4 separate regions of the Homo sapiens genome follow, and regions 1, 3 and 4 are each reported to be linked to region 2. The links are microRNA targets in miRTarBase. Many come from high-throughput screens and were not tested one by one. Region 2 holds a microRNA gene; each other region holds the end of a gene's coding sequence.

Evidence for each region. Region 2 holds the annotated microRNA hsa-miR-1202 (GUGCCAGCUGCAGUGGGGGAG, at 1,636-1,656, opposite strand). A microRNA usually pairs through its seed, bases 2 to 8, with sites in the 3' UTR of a target mRNA and lowers its output. Matches are read on the target gene's strand: a 7mer-m8 pairs with bases 2 to 8, a 7mer-A1 pairs with bases 2 to 7 and ends in A, and an 8mer does both.
Region 1: miRTarBase lists NOL4 as a target of hsa-miR-1202. Seed matches in the 3' UTR shown: 7mer-A1 at 1,597-1,603.
Region 3: miRTarBase lists ZWINT as a target of hsa-miR-1202. Seed matches in the 3' UTR shown: 7mer-m8 at 4,047-4,053.
Region 4: miRTarBase lists WNT9A as a target of hsa-miR-1202. Seed matches in the 3' UTR shown: 7mer-m8 at 2,462-2,468.

The regions. Positions count from the first base shown.
Region 1 is chr18:33,849,054-33,854,050 of GRCh38, reverse strand. NOL4 (nucleolar protein 4) reads left to right here. Exons shown (of 11, transcript NM_003787.5): 11 at 1,016-2,951. The coding sequence ends at 1,209. Among named protein-coding and RNA genes, the nearest start is that of ASXL3, 270 kb to the right of the region's middle.
Region 2 is chr6:155,943,468-155,948,464 of GRCh38, reverse strand. It overlaps MIR1202 (microRNA 1202), which reads right to left and starts at 1,668; the gene lies at 1,586-1,668. All of the region lies in intron 4 of LOC101928923 (a long non-coding RNA gene), which reads left to right.
Region 3 is chr10:56,353,979-56,358,888 of GRCh38, forward strand. It overlaps ZWINT (ZW10 interacting kinetochore protein), which reads right to left. Exons shown (of 9, transcript NM_007057.4): 6 at 4,827-4,910; 7 at 4,578-4,746; 8 at 4,399-4,481; 9 at 3,249-4,207. The coding sequence ends at 4,440. Among named protein-coding and RNA genes, the nearest start is that of ZWINT, 4.8 kb to the right of the region's middle.
Region 4 is chr1:227,917,268-227,922,151 of GRCh38, forward strand. WNT9A (Wnt family member 9A) reads right to left here. Exons shown (of 4, transcript NM_003395.4): 4 at 1,389-4,733. The coding sequence ends at 4,251. Among named protein-coding and RNA genes, the nearest start is that of MIR5008, 22 kb to the right of the region's middle. RefSeq lists enhancers at 2,188-3,051, 3,052-3,914.

The DNA of each region.
Region 1 (4,997 bases), not on the chromosome of region 2:
TTTTATTCAAGGATTTAAATTTAATACTGCAAATTTAATAACTACAGTAAATGCTTAATGTCAGCTAAGAAGTATAAAAGTGAACACTTAAAGAATAATTGAAAGAAGTATCTTCTCAACACAAATGACTGAATAAAAGATTTTAAATAACTTTATAAATACTTTTTAAGTAAAAATTTACAAAATGTTGTCAAAAAGCATACCCACCAGATGGCTTAAATATGTAAGAAAAAAAGGTTTCGGCACATGAATGTGTTTTGTGCAAATAAATACAGAGATGACATTAAATTCCTAAACACGTAAGTCAGTATTCCAAATGTCTAGGTTCTCTGTGGTATTGTTTGCAGTAATCACTTATTGCACTTCTAAAGCAAATTCCAATGTAATATGTCAACACTTTTAATACTAATCAACATGGTAAACAACATCTGCCTGAAATGAAAAATAATAATAATAAAATACTTAAGTCAAGTCCTGGTTGTGCCACTTAAACGTTGTCAAACTCTAAACATATTCCTGAAGTCCTTTAGTCCTTAGTTTCCTTTTTGCTAAGTTGACTAGTTTGTACTCTAAAGTCATTAGCATCACAGTTTTTTTAAATTGCAAATTGATGCGGTCTAAGATATCTGTTAATGAATGTAACAAATGAAAAATGTTTGTAATTCCCATCATGTTATGCTACTATGAGAAGCGTCTACAACATATGGAAGACAGATTTAAAATTGAATTTTTCAAAAAACACATGTTCCAAGAAAGTTTTCACCATCTCTCTACAGCAAGAGGTGATTTCCAGAGGCTGATTTCGGCATCTGAGAGAAGACCGAAGAGAAGCCACTCGGTTACCATTACATTGCTCATTAATCTTTCTGAGAGTAGATGTATTTGATTAAAGAGATCACTAGCTTCTTGTGGAAGAATTCATTAATTCATTCAACTATAATTTATTGAATGCTCACATCCAAGATGCTGGAACAAATAATATTTATGTCTAATTTTGTGATGATTTTCTTTCTAGGACCCACTGATCTCAGCATGAAGAGACAATTGGCGACTAGCTCAGGATCCTCCAGCAGCTCAAACTCCAGACCCCAGCTGAGTCCAACTGAAATCAATGCCGTGAGACAGCTTGTTGCAGGATATCGAGAATCAGCTGCATTTTTATTGCGATCTGCAGATGAACTGGAAAATCTCATTTTACAACAGAACTGAGACAGACGACCACCATATTCACTGAGGTCTAAATTTGCAGTTTCCACTAATGACATTTTGATTTCCCAACAGAGATACTTCTGGTCTTACTGCACAGTCTTTTAAGAGAAATACTTCCATTATGCCACATTGTCCTTGATCCGTAAGTGATGTGTTAAGGTGCTTCAAAGGAACTCTGACCTCTGAAGTACTTGAGCTACTTTAGTATGTCCAGCCTATTGCTTTTTGTTTTAGTGTGTCACCATAAATATCAGGGGCATAAAAGGCTATCTATTCTTAATTCAAGGATAAAACAGAAGAAGCTTGTGGTATAAAACAATAGTTCAAGATCCAGCTGAAATATTAGTGGAATTTGCTACTGACTCATTGGACTGAAAGCTGAAGTACCTGGCAAAAAAAAAAAAAAGAAAAAAAAAAGCCAAATTTCTTGTTGCTACAGGATATAACAACAATGAAAAGGATCTCGTATTTTAAAAAAATATGTAATTTTTATAAAAAGAAAACTTGTTTTTCATTCAAACTTGTCATTTTTACTTTGGTAACTTTTTCATAGGTCCTAAAAGAAAACTGTTTTGAGAAACTACTGTAAGTACCTTTTCCACATCCCTTTGCCTTCTCCTCTTTCCAAATTCTTTCTACAAAAATAACACTTGATGCTGGAAAAACCCTTGCCTACGTTCTTTCAATCGTCACATCAGGAACTACTTCCAAGAGAAGCCTGCATTTCTGCTCTCATGCTGATCTCAAAAACCCCACTCAACACTGCAACTTTATCATAGCAGTTTTCATCCCAGAATTTTTTTTTTAATAATGACAAGACATGTTGTTGAAAAAAAATCACACCTTGGTTTCTTAGAGCTGCTCGTTCCTGATTGCCGCTGCTGTCTCCAGGCATCCCTCTAGCAGCACCTGGATGTAGATGACTGAATGTTAAGAGGTTGCAAGTGACAATCTGAAAATTTGCACTCTTGTGTGTAGTTTTCTTTTCATTTCTTTCAGAAATAGTTTCCAAAAAGACCATTACATCTCCTGATATGATTTGTATAATTTTCAGTTCTAGCTAAAAATAATGTAAGGAACTCTCAGCGGATGCAGCTGCAACTTACAATGAACTGTGCCCTCCTATCCCCCATACTTTACCCTTCTTTCTTATTTTATAGTGTGGGATACACATGAGTGATGTTTTCTTTGTGCACTGAGACAAGCCTATTTTTTAAATATTTAGGGAGAAGTACTTTAGTTCATGCTTCTTATACAACTTTTTTCTGTTGTTTAGCTTTGGTTGGATTACAAATTCTTTGTGCATTCCTGAATTTGCCTTATTTCATGTAAAATTTATGTCATTCAGTTTTTGACAATGAGTTTGAGGCATCAGTGATATTTCTTATCTACTTGTTACATATAGTTTTTCAAGTAATGACTGTGATTGTGACCGAGTAATGTGCACTTTTTCTTGTAACTGTGGACATTGCTATGCTTTTTTCTTCTAGTGTTTCTAGAATTACTGTTCCTTACAATTATGTAAACAAAAAACAAAAAAAAAACTTTTGTGATACTGTTGGTGAATATAATGTGAAAAATCTTATTGAAATATGAGTATTTTGGAAATACATAGCTGCACAAACATCTTTTAAGATGTGGATTTAGAGTTTGCTTATTTAAATGAAAATTCAAAAATTGAGGGCTGGTATAATTTTCTCTGTTTTGTTTGGTTTAATAAACAGATTTCTGTGTTAAAAGAATGATTGTCAAACCTTATAAACTTTCTGAAGGGTATAATGCTTAATTTTTAGCCATTTACTTTTAAAATCTAAAACGCCATTTTCTACCTACGTTTAGCACAAAATTGGCACTTCAAATTTATTTCTCAAGAATATCCTAAGATCCCCCAGGGTCTCAACATTCATTCTAATAAAGAATTTATTCCAAGAATGGGTAAGGAAATTAGGAAGCCAAGACTACTTCATTTGATTATTCAAATATGAATAGAGAATATTTTTGTATATTTTATTACTTTTTTTTTTCAGGAGTAACCTGTTATTTTTTAGTTCTTCCCGATTTAACATCTTGGATGAAACACATGCCTGTTTTAAGTGCATGTTTTATACTTTGCCTTTTGCTGTAATAGTATTTAAAGGCTTGGACAGGGTTTCTATTTTGCAAATTAACACTCAGGCTTGAATTTAGGGTATATGTCAAAAATTCTTGATGGTTAAGAAGCAAAGGGAGTAAAGAAGGTAAATTCCAACAAGATGCACTTGTTTCTATTTCATTTTCATCTTCAATTATAACTCCCACATCCACTCACCAAGGACAAAATACCCAAAATCGTCTGTGTTTGGCACATTTGTTCAAAAGAATGAGTATCTTGGGACTCCCATCATTCCTGGGAGAGTACAAAGGCCAAAATGAAGTCCATTTTTTTCTTTACTTGTACCTGAAAAACAGCCTGGTCCTTTTTTTTACCCTCTGTCACAGCAGAATAAAGAGATCACATTTCTTTATAAAGCATTTTGGAGAAACCGAGTGAAGGTTCATACTCTCATTCAAATGAGGCGATTAAAAAATAGGAAACTATCATTAACACAGAGATCAAACAGAAGCTTCTGTCACTTCTGCCAGGTAGCTTATCATACAACACCAGTTTCTTGTCACATATGTATTATTTTATCATGCTGATAAAAAGTGCCTTGAAATAACCATAGCACATGCAAGCACAAAGTCACTGAATCTTAAATTGTGTAGTACAAATAACAATACTCAGTGAAAAGGGCTTTAAGATATCTCAGCCACTATTTAATGATTATTTACCAAGGAAATGCATTTTGCTTCCTTTACTTCTTATAATAACCTGAGATGAGCATAGTCACTCTCCATTCTACAAAGTCGTCTCCAAAAGAGGAAATTAGTAATCAAGAGCACAAAGACAGTGAGAGTTGAAGCCGTCCTTTGAACCCAGGCACACCGGATGCCAGAGCCCACCCTGTTGCTCACTGACATCTGCTCCTTCACGAGTACTAAATAATTAAATTCTGCACTGTATCTTAGAACCAAGCTTTTACACTAAATTTTAGAAATGTTATATGTACAAATAAATCACAGTTATTTATTAAAAATGCACATAACTTATCCAATTATTTGACTAAACACAGTTTTATTCTGCTATACAAGATTTAATTTCCTTTACGATATGTTCTTTACAAATATTAAAACCCACCATAAAACCCACCACTAATGAAAATCAAGTACACAAAGCATGAAAGGGAAAGGCAGTGACTTTTTATCAATGGGGGCTTGTATTGAATTCTGTAAGGAAAAGTAAAAGGGATTATCCAGTTGAACTCATAAAGAAAAATTCATTCACTTGAGGTTTTTGCCCCAGACACTATACAGGTGCTATCCTGCTATTGTCATTAACCCTGACAGCATGAACACAATCATTCAAAGATTAAACTTTCTATGGCAAAAATATTTTCTAATTTCATGTGGCCCACGTTTTAAGATGTTTTGTAGAAAAAAAATTCAAAAATAATGTAGGTAGACATTATCATATCTTTTGAAGTGTGTTTGGGATGCTGATATTCAGTAAAGTAAATTGAACACAAGCTAATCTACAGAAAATTACTATATTAGTTATAGCTGTCTTCTTTCTTAAGAAAGTTTCTGAAAGGACATACAATGCTATTAATAAAGTAACCTCTCTCCAGTTTTAACATCAGTCATGTTCAACATTTAATTTTTTCTGATTACAAAAGAAACTTGGGAAGTGGAAGAAAAAAGATAAGAAA
Region 2 (4,997 bases):
TTGCATTCTAGTCTCTGCCCAAAAGTCACCTTCTCCAAGAGGGCTCTCTGACTACTGTGCCTAAAATCACACCCTCCCCATCACTCTATTGTAGTACTTAGCTGCTAATAATTATGTTGGGACAACAGCCTTAAACTGTCTCAGGCAAAGGGGGCATATGGCCATACTATTCATAGCACTTACTGTCACAGGATCCATAGGGTGTCACTTTTCCAGCCAGAAATCTCTGTGGCTGGTGGCGTCTTTGCCTGAGTTTTGCTTGGGCCCACGGGGCTCATTCTGCCCACTCAGCCTGGCAGGCTGTGCTGAGCTCATGCTACCAGCCCAGATCCCACGCCTACCAAGGGCAAGCCAGGCATGGAGCAGCAAGAGTTGTGTGAGCAGACAAGTGTGGGGTCCAGCCACAGTGCACAGCCAGGCACATCGGCTATTATGGAGGGGTGGGCAGCTCCAGGCATGTGCACAGGTGCCAGCTCAGATGCCAGCTCTGTGCAAGGCTGCAGCTGGATCAGATGTACCATAAGTGGCTTCTACCTGCATCTGGATGAGGGGAACATAGTGGTGCCTGGAAGCTTAGAGATGTCAGGAACTCCAGAGCCACAAAAAGGATGTCACAGCCCTGGCTTGGGGAGCCCCTAGGTCTGAGATCCTTGAAGGGCCACAGCTCTTCTCTCCTTCTCATCACCCACAATGCAGCAAGCAAGTGGCTTGTTTCACCCCTGTTTGTGTTATAGCTCTTTCAGTCCTGCCATTCAGTGGGTCCTGAGTTCTTGTCTTGCATCCAGGAAGAATGAGGTAGGTGGACAACTGGAGGGTGAGCAAAGTGGAGAGGAGCTTCATTGAGTGACAGAACAGCTCTCAGGAGACCCAAAGTGGGTAGTTCCTTGCTGCAGGCAGGTCATCCTGACGAGTGTGTGAGTCTGGCTGAGTCTGGGGTTTTTATGTGCTCAGAATGGAGGAAGTGTGTGCTGACTGGCCCACAGGCAGCCACAGTGGGCCTGGAAAATGCACCATCTGATTGGCTGAACAGTCATCAATGAAGTTCTCACTCTGGGCTGTAGCCTTTGCCCAGAACTGGCAGCCTGGCCCCCAGGCTTCACGCTGTTCCTGACCTGAAAGTGGGGTTTCACCAGAGACCCACCCCTTCCCGCCTAGGAATCTGTCTGCCTTTAACATGCCATTCACAGCACCCAGGCTGTCCATAAGGAGAGGCACCGGCAGGCATGCACTGAGCTGCTCTCAGCCTCCTTGCCCCCCACCCATGCTCAGTGATGCCCAAAGCCTAGAGGGGGCCAAGGTGGCAGGGTGTTGGTGTCAGTGCCATGCTGAGGACACGCACACCTGGCCAGGTTGCGACAGCCGCCAGGCTCAGCCACAACTTTGCTCTGCCCCAAGCAGGGACTGGGAACAGGGAGAGGACAGGGAGCTGGAGCAGGCATGTTCAAGCCTGCAGGGGCAGGGGGGTTCCTGGGCCCCTGAGAGTGCAGGAATGTCCAGGTCCAGAACCCTGGCTGGGCAGCTGTAGCTGTGTGCCAGGGAGCAAGGGGCTCCCATCCTGCCAACTCAGTAGGGGGTGGGGCTCCCACCTGTTCTTGGCACCTGCTGGCTAAGCAGAGTGGGCAGCCCTGGCAGTGCCTCCCCCACTGCAGCTGGCACCTCTGCAGCAGGTGCTCCAGATGGGCTGCTGCTGCCATCACTACCACCAGCTGACTTTGTTTTCCATAGAAGTTCCTTGAAGACATGAACTTTATTTTGTTCACTTAGAGCAGTGCCTGGCACATGGAGGGCCCTTAATAAATATTTATTGAATAATACTAAAATTAGCATTATATGCCAACAATTGTTCCATGTCTTGTAATATTCTTTAACAATATACATTTTAAAGGTTGTTAACACATGTTGACGAATTGCTTTCCAAAAAGTTTTTCTAGTCATTCAGCAACATTCTCTGGTCACTCTTAGAACATCGTTCAAATATTAGAATATATTAGTATCACTACTAATTTTATAGACAGTTCCAATGTGCATTTCTATGATGACTCAAAAGAATAAATAGGTTCTTTACATTTATTGGCTATTTGTATTTTTCCTGTGATTGTTATTATGTGCTTTGTAAAATAGGGGGTAAGGATTATAATTACACGATATGGTCTCCACACTCAAGACTTTAATTTAGCCAGTGAAAGAGTAAATTTTATAGGGAATAATAATTATGAAAAAGTTTAGGAATTGATTTTGTTGGGAAATAGTTAAGAAAAAATATTCAAAAGTTTAAAAAGAACAGAACTGGAAAGCTGCATAAAGTCCTAAAGCAGCAACATTTAGTTACTAAAACACATGGCTTTAAAAATATAACCATTGTTTCCTAATTGACTCTGCTATATCTGCATAGTGAATGGGAAAGGAGCAGAGATTTTGAAAGTGAAGCCCTTCCACTCCCACTCTTCATCAAAAGGGAATAGTACAGAAAGGAAGCAGCCATCACCTACTAGCTGCTATTGAAAATAATAGAATCAGTTAAAATTATACCAAATTGTAGCTATGTTAATTGAATTGCAATTAAAGTGATTATTGTGTGGTGTTATTTGGCAAAGGAACTCAGAAATAACTGTGTCCTGCCTTGCTATAGATACCTCTTGGGGTGAGCTTCCAAGGGCAAAAGAGTTGCAAGAGAAAGTCTGACCAAGCCGGTCATTGTCTCACATCTTTATTGCTTGGGCGCTAGCCTCCCTCTCCAACATAGGTCTTCAGGAAGTCAGCTGTTCTTGGAGCATTGTTCCTCTCTGAGCCAAGTGGCTCTTTCCTAACCCCAAACCTGGGTCTCTAATGTCAACACTCAGGTCGGTGGAAAGGTTGAATTAAAGTGGACTTCCCAAGATGAGAAGAAATAGAACATGAAGAAACGCAAGAGGGAGGGGATGGCAGGAGGAAGGTGCCTGCCCCAGTGCTGTGTCTCCTACTCCAGACTTTATCAAACCTGATCTAGGGCTGCCCTTGAGGCAGGAGAGAGTACAGAGTGGAAGAAAGAGAGAGCTAAAGATAAAGAGAGATGTTTGGGATTTTTCCAAGGGGAAATGGCTCAGGCCCTCATTACCATTCTGTACTCTGTGGAAGCAACAGAGACCAGAAAGGAAAAATCCACACTCCAGTGCTGCCACCTTCATCTGTTTGAAAATTATATCAATACACAGTGCTAAGGTTTGAATAATTCAGATCATAACTCTTTCCCATTGCGGGTAGGGTGTCTTGCTCTTGTTTTCTCCTTTGGAAGGAGTGATGAGGGGTGTGGAGAAAGGAGCAGAAATACTCAGTGAGCTTCTCTTGCAGGTCAACGCTCGCCATTCTGATCAGAGATAGGATGGCACAGGAGGGACAGGGCAATCCATGGGAAGTTTTGCTCCTGCCTTAAACGAGGTGAGAATACTCACAGCAAAATTAGGTCTAAAGCTCAGAGAGATGCTCTTTGCTGCAAAGGGTAACACTTGAAATAGAGCCACCTGGGGATTTATTAGCCTGAAAATTTCAGGAACTTCAAAGGAAACAATATTAAATGGGAAAGCATCAATTCTCATCAGAATTCAGAAATTTAGGGAAATAAGAACTATATATCAGAATGGAGAGATATTTTACATACAGTTTTTTGTTCATTTGTTTCCCTTGGTCTAAAAGAAGATTTAACCTTAAACTGAACTTGAATTTTTAGAATCAGAAATTTAAAACCAAAATGAACATTTAGCCATGATCTCAATGCTGAAACATTACAGATGAGAAGGTTGACATGGTATCACTAAGCTAGACTAGAATCCAAGCTTCCAGCCTAATATGTGGAGTCTTTTTTCATGTTTCCAGGAAATGAATCGTGTGATCGGATCTTACAAGAGGACAAATTTTGTTTAAAACTGAATGATAAAGATTGGCCACAAAGAAAGCTGGACACATACAAATTTTAAAATCCAGTTTCTATGTCTATGAATACAAGAAGAAGTGCATCACCAAAGTAAACAAGATCACAATCTAGTGATAGCTTAAACAATCTGTGAATGTGTGATCCATACTGCTCTCAGAAAGGGAAGGATGGTTTTTCTGGTGCTGCTACTAATAGAAAAGCACATACAGCATGCATGTCTAAGGCAGTCTCATGTAATATAGTAGTACCTTGGCTGGGCACGGTGGCTTATGCCTGTAATTCCAGCATGTTGGGAGGCCAAAGCGGACGGATCATGAGGTCAGGAGTTCGAGACCAACCTGACCAACATGGGGAAACCCCATCTGTACTAAAAATACAAAAAAATCAACTGGGCGTGGTGGTGCGTGCCTGTAATCCCAACTACTTGGAAGGCTGAGGCAGGAGAACTGCTTGAACCCGGGAGGCAGAGGTGGCAGTGAGCCGAGATTGTGCCACTGTACTCCAGCATGGGCAACAGAGCAAGACTCCATCTCAGAAAAAAAAAAAAAAAAAAAGAAAGAAAAAACATATATAGTAGCACTTTCTATTTACCAGGCACCATCAGAGGCATTTTACATGTTTCATTGCATTTTATCCTCCTAACAATCCAATGAGCTAAGTGTTGTTATTATCAATATTTTGCAGATGAGGAAACTAAATGACAGAGAGGTTGAGTCACTTGCTCAAAGTCACATGGTGTATTAGTGGTGGAACCAGGATAAACCACATGAATAGTGCTGAGAGTAACTGCTTTTATTAAACTGTGAAAGAGGGAGCAACTGCCACTTCCTAGAGTAGAATCTTACTCCAAACACACCACGGGGACCCATTAGAACCTAGCAAATGTGATGTTTGAAGAGGATTAACAAAAGGATGTGTTCTGTTGCTATTTATTTAGGTATTCTGGATTTCATTTTTAATCAAAGTAGATCATCAGAAGGCTACCCAATTGAAATATATCTTTGCCACTGATGGACTTGTTTTTACAAACTTTTCAGATAATGGCCTTGCCTTTTCTTGGAGGGTATTTTAAAGCACAACCTCATCAATT
Region 3 (4,910 bases), not on the chromosome of region 2:
GGAAGAAAGCCATTTATTTTTAGAGATATTCAAAACCCTCACTGATCACCACTGCTGCAAAAAGTACAAGTTTAGCACTATAAGAGTTAAAGAGCAGCGGAAAATGCCCATCTTGTTATGGCAGGGGAGAGTATTAGAAATGAAACCTTAGTTTTATAAATTTCGAAACTGTACAGACAGAATGTGCAGTATTAGCTTTGCCAACACTATCTGGGATAATAAGAATATTTACCTGATAGAATAAGTCACATAAATTTAGAAGACCTTAATAATTTTAGGAGGGTACTTTGAACAAGTTTTCTCTCTCATGCTGTTTTTTAGAAACTGATCCTAGCAACTGGTTAGATAAAAATGATCAGAAATACTGAATGCAATGTGTTAAATGATTTTCAATGTTTAGAACTCTGTTAGAAAAAAATAACATTTTGGAAAAAGTAGATGCAAAAGAAGTCATAATATAGAAGTAAAATTTTTTTGGGGTGTTACCTCTGTGAAATCTCATACAAACTTCCAAGACACACTTAAAAATTTGGAATACCTCCTGTATGCATTGTGTTCCTTTTTCATTTTTGGCAACCATTTACATTTCCACCAATGTTTGTGGATCTACCCTCTATCAGTATTTTTCTTGAACTTGTGGGTTTAGTGATGAACAAAAATGATAAAATCTCTTCCCTATAAGAACATATATAATGACTACACATATACATAAGCCTATATGTAACTAATAAATTTTAAGGAACAATATTCAGAGGTGTGATACCATTTGAAGCAAATGGAATAAAAGAAGTAACAGTAAGATTACAAAATTTGGTGCATTAAAAATAACAAAATTATCTTAAATCCATTGAGGAACTAAACACTATTACAAATACATTTGAGAGGCAAGGGCAACAAAGGAAACCTCCTTGATTTAAAATAAAATCAATACTAAAATTATAATCTATTTAGAAATAATCAATAGCCTATGTATTAAAATATATGAATTATTCTCAGAGTGGTGGTCAAATAAAAATGTAAATATGTAAATGCGTTTGTTGGACTATAAAAAAGAACATATGTATTATCAAATATTAATTTTTAAAAATCCTACAAATATTAAAAATTAGAGCAGAAGGGAATAAAGACAAAAAATAATTAAAAGAATGTATTAAAAGCAACATTAAAGAAAATAATGCCAATACCTGTGTTTTTGAAAGACATATAAAGTAGAAAAAAGGCCTTTGGGAAATACTAATAAGAAAGAAAATAAACAACAGGAATGAAAAATGGGATAGCACACAAATATAAAAAACATTAAAAACACTCATTTTAACATTTCTAAGAGTTATACAGGTAATGCCCACAAGCTATTGACAGAAGTTAACACAAATTCTCTCAATTTTGTATCAGGCCGTAACGGTAAAATTTAGGAAAAATAGGCAGCTCAAAGTAAAACTACATGAACTATATTAAACAGGGAGTATGAGAGATAGGCCAATAAAGTTATATATTATGAACCTTTCCAAAAAAGATAATGAAGTGTCCATATATTAAGATAATAAAAAATAAGCTCGTATGTATACCTACTATGTAGTCAAATACATCAAGAATTAAAAAAAAAAATTTAAAAAGCTCAAAATGTAAGCCAGAAGAAAATATTCAAAAGCAGTAGTAAATTGAGATCTAATACAACTTATTGAAATGAAAATCAAAGATCAAAAATTAAGAAACTGATGAAAAAACAATAGCTTGGCTATATAAAGTTAAAATAGAAAAAGCATCTAGAATGCAATCTCAGAAAGAGCAATGGTAACTACAAAAGAAAGTTTGCATGACATGAAGAAAAAAGTTAGAAAATTTGATTGATGTCTAATTGGCATTTTAGAATAAGCTAATACAAAAGAGGTGTTTTTTAAACAGATAAACTGAAAATATTCCAGAATTGTTGAAAGAGTGGCAATTTAGAAAGCTCAACTATTTGCAAGCAGAATGAATGAATAAATAAGTAAACCAGAGTCCCAAACTATTCACAATATAGTAAAACTATAGAGCACTAAATACAGGTGTTAAAAGCACTAACTGGGTAAAAAAATGCATAGGAAGGGCTTTTAAACTGACAGTTGACTTCTCATCATCAAGGATCAAAACCAGATGACCAGAGAATCAGTTGAGTTAATCTTCAATGTGTTAAGTCAAACTGCCTACCAAGCATTCTCTACATAATAAAAACATTTCTCAAGAATAAGGATGAAATAAAAATATTTTCATAGTAAAATTTAAAACATTATACAGTCTGCAAACTCTAAGGGAAATTCTGAGACATTTATTTCAGATGGAAAAAGTATTCCACATGAAAGCTCTGAAATGTAAAAATAATGTGGGCAAAAATAGTAAATAAATTAGTAATAAAGCATTGACTGTATAAAATAATTTAAAAAATTAATTTATGAGAACACAAACAGGCTAGAAGTAATAAACTGGACAAAAATACCTTAATAGTTTAGAGTGGGATGATCTATCAATGGTTACAGCTGTTTAGGCTTCATTTATTAAGAAAAGGATGAAGAGTCTTTAATTCTTTAAATAACTTGAGACATTGCTAACTATGAAAGCTAAACTAGCCGGTCTAAATTAGACCTTCTAAACAAACAAACAACAAAAAGCATGAAGAAACAATAAAAAATAAAAGGCATGAAAGGGATAAATAAAAAGCCAAGAGAAAGCAAATAAAAAATTGACACAACTAGAAAATCATAAAGACAAATGTGACAAGAGTTTTTTTTTTTTTTATAAATAACCCTTTAAATGCTGTATACAAGTGGTAAATATAAAGAAAGGTTGAAACTAAAAAAGAATGGAAATTCAAGAGAAAGGATGTCAAGCAAAGGGTAACCAAAAGAATTGACAGTTATATTAATATTAAAACTAGTAGTTTTCAAGGTTAAACACATTAGCCTATAGATGAAGCAGGCTACCACACAAAGAGTTCAGTTCAGAAGAAAAATATAAATGTAAATTTACATATACCTTAATAAAGTAACTGCAAAGTATGTAAGAAAATGGAACTATAAAGACAAATGCACAAATCCACTATCATAGTTGGAGATTTGAACACACCTCTCAGGTGACAGACAACAAAAAATTAAGTATATAAGATATAAATTGAAACAAAAATTGCAAACATAATCTAATAGAAAATACTACACACAATCTAAAATGCATTCTTTCCAAACCTATGTGAAACATTAAAAAAGATGACATCACTCTTTATCAGTAAAAAAGATAATTCACTCACCAAATTTCAAAGTTTATTAAACAGATGATATTCTCTGACCAAATTAAACTTAGATTATCTTCTCACAATCAATAGAAGACCAAATTATTTTTCAAAGAAATTTATGAATCAATGAAATAATTATAACAGAATATAGGAAATGCTATGAATTGAATGATTGTGAAAATAAAGGAAGTCAGAAGAAATGTATAACCTTAAATATTTATTTGAGAAAACAAATAAAGATCCAAATACGTGAGTTGATCATCTGATAAAAGTAAGAGTTGACAAAAAAGGTACATCTTCTCCAATCCGAAAACAGAAAGTGGGAAAGATCAAGGTATCACTAGAGGTCAATGAAACAAAACATACAATAGTGGATGACAAAAGCCAATCTCTGAATCTTTGAAAAGAATATAATAAATGAACATCTGAAACCAGTGATCGAGAAATGTTTTAGATAAGGCACAAAAAGATACCAAGAATGTTAACACTAGGCTGTACATCCTAAAACAGTCAGATGAGCTCACTGTTATAATTCTGGTTCACCGCAAGAACCTTAGCACAAAGAAAGGACTCAACAAACATTTGGATCCATGAATAAAATTATCTTCCCACATATAACCACCTGCCTAAAACATTCTCCTCCTCCTTGAATTAAATTCACCATGTCTGCATCATAGGAGGCCCAAGGCCAGTACCCCCTCCCCATCTGCACACCCTGTGTTCAAACCAGTCCCAGCTCCTGTCATGTTATTGGCTTCTGAGTATCTGTATTAATAGTTGTTCCTGCCAGCATATGAAGATGAACAAATACACAACTGAGAGAGATCCAGGGATTTTAATCCACAGATGCCAGAGCTTGCTGGGATGTAGTCAGAAATCAAGCTGAACTCAGGAGTTCACAGTCTTTCCTGTAATGATGGTTGGGAGGTGAGGGAAGTCAGAGGCCTGGGGAAGAAGACAGGGGTTAGCTCTGGGTGGGCTAAGCATGGGAATGAGGTGTAACATAAGCTCTTTCCTGTTCCCACCATCCATCTGCTCCATGGGTAGCAGAGCTCAGATGCAGAGAGAGGTAAACCAGGCTTTCCCTCCTTCCACACTTGCAGTCCAGGGACACCAAGGCCTGAGTTGGGTCTGACCTTTTCTAGGATCTTTCTCCATGCTGCTGTCCTCCAGGAAGTCATGGCAAATTTACATCTCCAGCAGGTTGTAGACCAACAGCCTTGGAGAAATACAGTATAGACAGTGGGTAAGGCCAATCTCCCAGCTTCTGTCTCCACCTGCCAGCCCATGCCCACCTGTTCCATCTCTCATTTACCTTGAAGGACACACCAGGGTCTCTCCCCATGGTGTCTCCTGTACTCTGCTCCTGGGGTCGAGTCGGCTGCTGGGGTTTATCATCTGGAAGATTCTCTGCCTCAGCCTCAGCCTCAGGGAACAACAGCTTACCCTGCAGGGTATACAGAAGCTGGAGGAAGGTCTGATACCTACAAAGAGGAGGTAAGTGTGAAGGAAAGGAATCTCAGCTGGACCATTTTGAATCTGCAGCCCATGCTCCCGAACTTACCTCTGCAGCTTGTCCCGCTCCTGTTCTGCCTGCTGCTTCAGGTTTCCAAGTTTCTGAAACACCCTGTCAAGCTCCTGCTGAGTC
Region 4 (4,884 bases), not on the chromosome of region 2:
TCCCCCTCCCGCCTGGGCACAGAGGCCCAAGCCCCTGACCACCCTGCCCTGCACAGGCCTGTCCCTCCAGGCAGAGCTATCCAGTGTGGCTTCACCCGGCAGTGGCCAGAGGCTGAGGGCCAGGGGCCGGCACCAGGAAGCCCCCACCGGCCTCTTAGTAGGAGCTGTGGCCATGGGTCTGGAAAGGAAGCCTGGACTGTTCCCATCAGGGAGATAATCCCACATTCCTCAGTGGGCAGCCCCTCCCTCCCCGGTGCTGTGGTGGGCGTGGACCTGGATGTCTGGGAGGGCACAGACCAGACGCGAGGTGGCAGGAGAGGGGCAGGCAGGGTCTGGAAGGGCGAGTGAGGGGTTTCCTGCAGGGCATGTTGCAGTGGTGGGGGACCCACAATGTGGGCTCAGAAGGGTGATGGAGGTGAGAGGAAGGTGAGGACTGTGGGCTGGGAACTGGCTTCGAGTCAGGGAGGTGAGGGGCTATGCCCAGAAGACCCCACATGCAGGGCAGGGGGATGATGAGGCCCTGCTTGTGACCCAGCAAGAGAGTGAGGGGCCTCCTTCAGCAAGAGGCTGTGGGCAGGAGTGGGATGGAGCTAGGTGTCTGAGAAGACGGGGCTGGACAGGGCTTCCTGTGGCACCCCAGGCTCTCCAGCCTGGACATGGGAAGCACAGAGACTAGGGTCAGCTGGGGCCATACACGCAGCCTGGAGATGCCTGCCCAACAAAGGTGCCAAATGTGGCTGGGAGATGGGGCTTCTCCCCCAGGGTTCCTTCTTAAGTCCTCCTCCTCCCAACGGTCCTCCTCTTCCTCAGGGCTGTCCTCCTCAGGTCCTCCTTCTTCCCAGGGCCCTCCTCCTCCCCAGGTCCTCCTCTTCTTCAGGGCTGTCCTCATCAAGTCCTCCTTCTTCCCAGGGCCCTCCTCCTCTCCAGGGCCCTCCTCTTCCCCAGGGCCCTCCTCCTCCCGAGGGCCCTCCTCTTCCACAGGGTCCTCCTCCTCCCCAAGTCCTCTTCCCAAGGGCCCTTCTCCTCCCCAGGTCCTCCTCTTTCCCCAGGCCCTCCTCCCCAGGGTCCTCCTCCTCTCCAGGGTCCTCCTCCTCCTGAGGGTGCTCCTTCTCCCCAGGGCCCTCCTCCTGTCCAGGTTCCTCCTCCTCCCCAGGGTCCTCCTTCGTGGATACCCCTTCTCCCCAAAACCTCCCCCTTCCTCCTCCTCCCTGGTCCCTCCTCCCAATTTCTCCTCCTTCCCAGGCATACCTCCCCGAGCCCACCTCCTCTCCAACCCTCTTTCTTGTCCTCCTCTTCGCAGAGGCCAACTCCTAGGCCTCCTCCTCAGGCCCTCCTCCTCGTCCCAGGCCTACAGAAGCCCCTGTGAAGGCAGCAGACTGAGATGAGGCTATAATTTAAAATACATTTATTTAATGTTTCCATTTGTTTCTGGTTCTGTGACACAAAGCTGTTAAATAAATACATTCTCCACAGTCCCTCTGGGACGGGCCACACAGATGAGGTAGAGAAATCATTGCACGCACGGAGACTCGGAGCACAGACAGGGCCCCTCCCACCCACCCACACCTGGCCAGAAGCCACCTGGGGGTCCAGGTCCCTCAAGGCAGGGCCTGGTGCAGAGAAGGTGGCTGGGATCCCCTGGCCAAGGAGCGGGCTGAACCCCTCCCAACAGCCCTTTCTCCTCTACTGCCCCTCAGAAGAGAAGCGCATGAAACAGGAGGCTCCGGCTGAGCGGCCTCTTCATCCAGCAAGACATTCGAATATGTATTTGTATAGAAACCAACTAGCTAGCAGACATTTTTGGTCTGCCTTGTTTAAAAAAATAGTTTTCTGAATATTTATGACATAGAGCTAAATGTGGTATTTGATTAAAAATAAAAACCTTCCTCTGACTTGACGCCCTTCATAGACCCAATAGTGACTGAGTGACAGTCTTGTCATGTCATGAGGGTGTGGCCAGCTATGCTGCTCAGGGACCAGTGGATGCGGACACTGCAGAGGGCAGGGGCTACCACCCCCACCCCTTCTAGCCAGGCTTCACCAGACAAAGGACAAACCCAGCGTCTTGCACCCACACTGTGGTACGGGGATGCAGCTGCAGGCACATGTCGGGGTGCTCTCTGAACCACAGGAGAATAAAGGTTCTTATGTACTATAACACAGGGACGGCAGAGACCCACAGCAACATAAATAGGTTTTCTTTTAAAAACACAGACACCCCGGCTTTCTGGAGACCCTTAGGGCTCTGAGACACCTATTCACTCAGTAGTTCCTGTATCCATACCAGCAACCCGCCCAGAACCCAGCCCACAGCCATCAGGACACCCACAAGACGGAGCCCAGGGCGAGAGGCTCTGGGAACCTAAGGCACCGCCATGCCACTGACAGCACAGCACAGCCAAGCTGACCATGCCAGTATACACACACACACACACACACACACACACACACACACAGACCATGCCAGCATGCATTTATACAACACACGCTTACACACATTGACCACGCCAGCACACACGCACTCACAACACTCACAACATACGCACACGTATGCACACTGACCACGCCAGCACACACACTCTCACAACACACACACACACTACACCCTCAAACCAAGCCAGGTCAGTGCAGGTCACCCTGTCCCCAGCACACACAACAGCAGGGCCATAAAGCATGGCGTTCCATGGCCAGATGCGAGCCCAAGACTGCCTCCACCGGCATCTGTCCCAATCTGTCCCCCAGTGACACAAAGCAAGCAGCTTCCTCATGACATGACATGAACCAATCAAAGGGCTGCCCTGCCCCCTCACCATGCCCGCCCCTCTCCACCACCCCCAGCTCGAGAATCTGCACTGAGCTGCCTGGAGGCCGGGCGTCTGCCCACAGGGTGCAGGGCAGGGGCCGCCGGCTGGCCCACCACGTGGCAGTGGCTGGCTGGCATGGGGCTGGGGGAGCTGGCTTCCAGAAGCCCCAAGGGCTGTGGCCAGACGCAGCTCACTGTATTTCCTTAACTACACACATCTATCTCGATTTAGTGGTTTCAAACAACTAAGCAGATCAGAGGCAGGGTTAGGAGGGAATATGTCAGGGACGGAAGGCGGGGCCCTCCCAGACTGGGGCTTGGCCGAGAGCGGGGAGCTGCAGCCGGGGAGGTGGCAGGGATGGAGAAAATAATAATTATTATATTAGTTAAATAATCATAATAATTTAAAAGTCACTGATATTTACTCCAAAGAGAAGTGCTCAACGTCAGAGGTCGGCAGTGTCCCCCCGAGCCTGGGCACCCGCACGGCCGGGCCCTGGGAGTGCAGAACAGGCTGCGTCCTCTTCTAGTGGTTTGAGTCTCTGAAGACAGTGCTGGTGTTGGGGCAGCCTGGGCCAGGCCAGTCCCCAACGGGTGGCCCACACGGAGGCCGCATGGTCACCAAGGTGCACCTGCCACCCATGCCTCAGAGGAGGTGGGGAGGGAAAGCCAATGGACTGGCATGGGGAGCCGCTTCCCAGGGACTGGTGTGTTAGGGATGGGAGAAAGCTCAGAAAGCATTGGTGCAATGCTCTCGGGTCAGAGGGAGGAAGCTGAGGCCCAGGGCACAAGCAGAGAGGTTGCATACGCCAGACCAGAGCCAACCCCCGCCTCTGGGTCCTGGAGAGGGGGAGATACAGGGCTTGGACAGCCAACCCAGAGGACCCCCGGCACCCTGCTCCAGCTGTACGCCCCGACGTGCTAGAAAAGCCTCTCAGTCCTTGCAGGTGTAGACCCCTCATACTGCATGCATGGCCCTCACCCTGCACAGCAGGGTTGGCCAGGCCCGGGGACTCGTCCCTTGCAGGTGTAGACCTTCTCACACCATGTGCAATGCCTGCACTCTGAGCAGCAGGGCTGACTGGGCCCAGGGCCTCAGCCCTTGCAGGTGTACACTCCTCACACCGTGTGCAATGCCTGTGCCATGTGCAGCAGGGCTGACTGGGCCCAGGGATTCAGCCTTGGCAGGTGTAGGCCCATTCATGCTCTGTGCAATGCCTGCACCCCATGCAGCTAGGACTGAGCCCAGGGACTCACCCCACGCTGCTAGGTCTGAGCCCAGGGACTCAGCCCATGCAGGTGTAGACCCATTCACACTGTGTGCAATGCCTGTACCCCACGCAGCTGGGCTGGTCGAGCCCAGGAACTCAGCCTGTGCAGGTGTAGACCCTTCACACCGTGTGCAATGCCTGCACCCTGTGCAGCAGGGCTGGCAGGGCCTGGGAACTCAGCCCTTGCAGGTGTAGACCTCCTCACGCTGCGTGCACTGCCTGCACTCCACATAGCAGCACCAACGCACCTGGCACTGGCAGGGCCTTGTCACCACCCGGCTCTGTGTGTTATGGCCGCGGCCACAGCAGATGCTCTCGCAGTTCTTCTCACGGTGGCACCTACGGCCAGCGGTGCCCGGGGAGAAGCGGCCAGCCAGGCAGAAGCTAGGCGAGTCATCCAGGTGCACCAGCTCTGGAGTGCGGGGCAGCGGGTCGCTGCCACCTGCCCCCGAGGCACGGCCCCGTGGTGGGGAGATGGCACCTGCCTCGCCGGCAGCTTCATTGGTGGTGCTGCCCACCTTGAGTGCCGTCTCATACTTGTGCTTCAGATGCTTGCCCACCTCATGGAAAGGCGCCAACTGCCGCCAGCAGGTCCGCACCGTGCATGAGCCTGACACGCCGTGGCACTTGCAGGTGGTCTCCACCCCAGCCTTGATCACCTGGCAGAAGGGTGCGGGAGGGAGGGCAGTGTGAGGGCTGTGCAGGTGGGCCCAGTGAGCAGACCCTGCCCTGGACCCCCAGAGGGACCCCACACCCCCACCCAGGCCCAGGCCCTGCCGGCGGGCGTCACCACTGCACATCTCACATCCA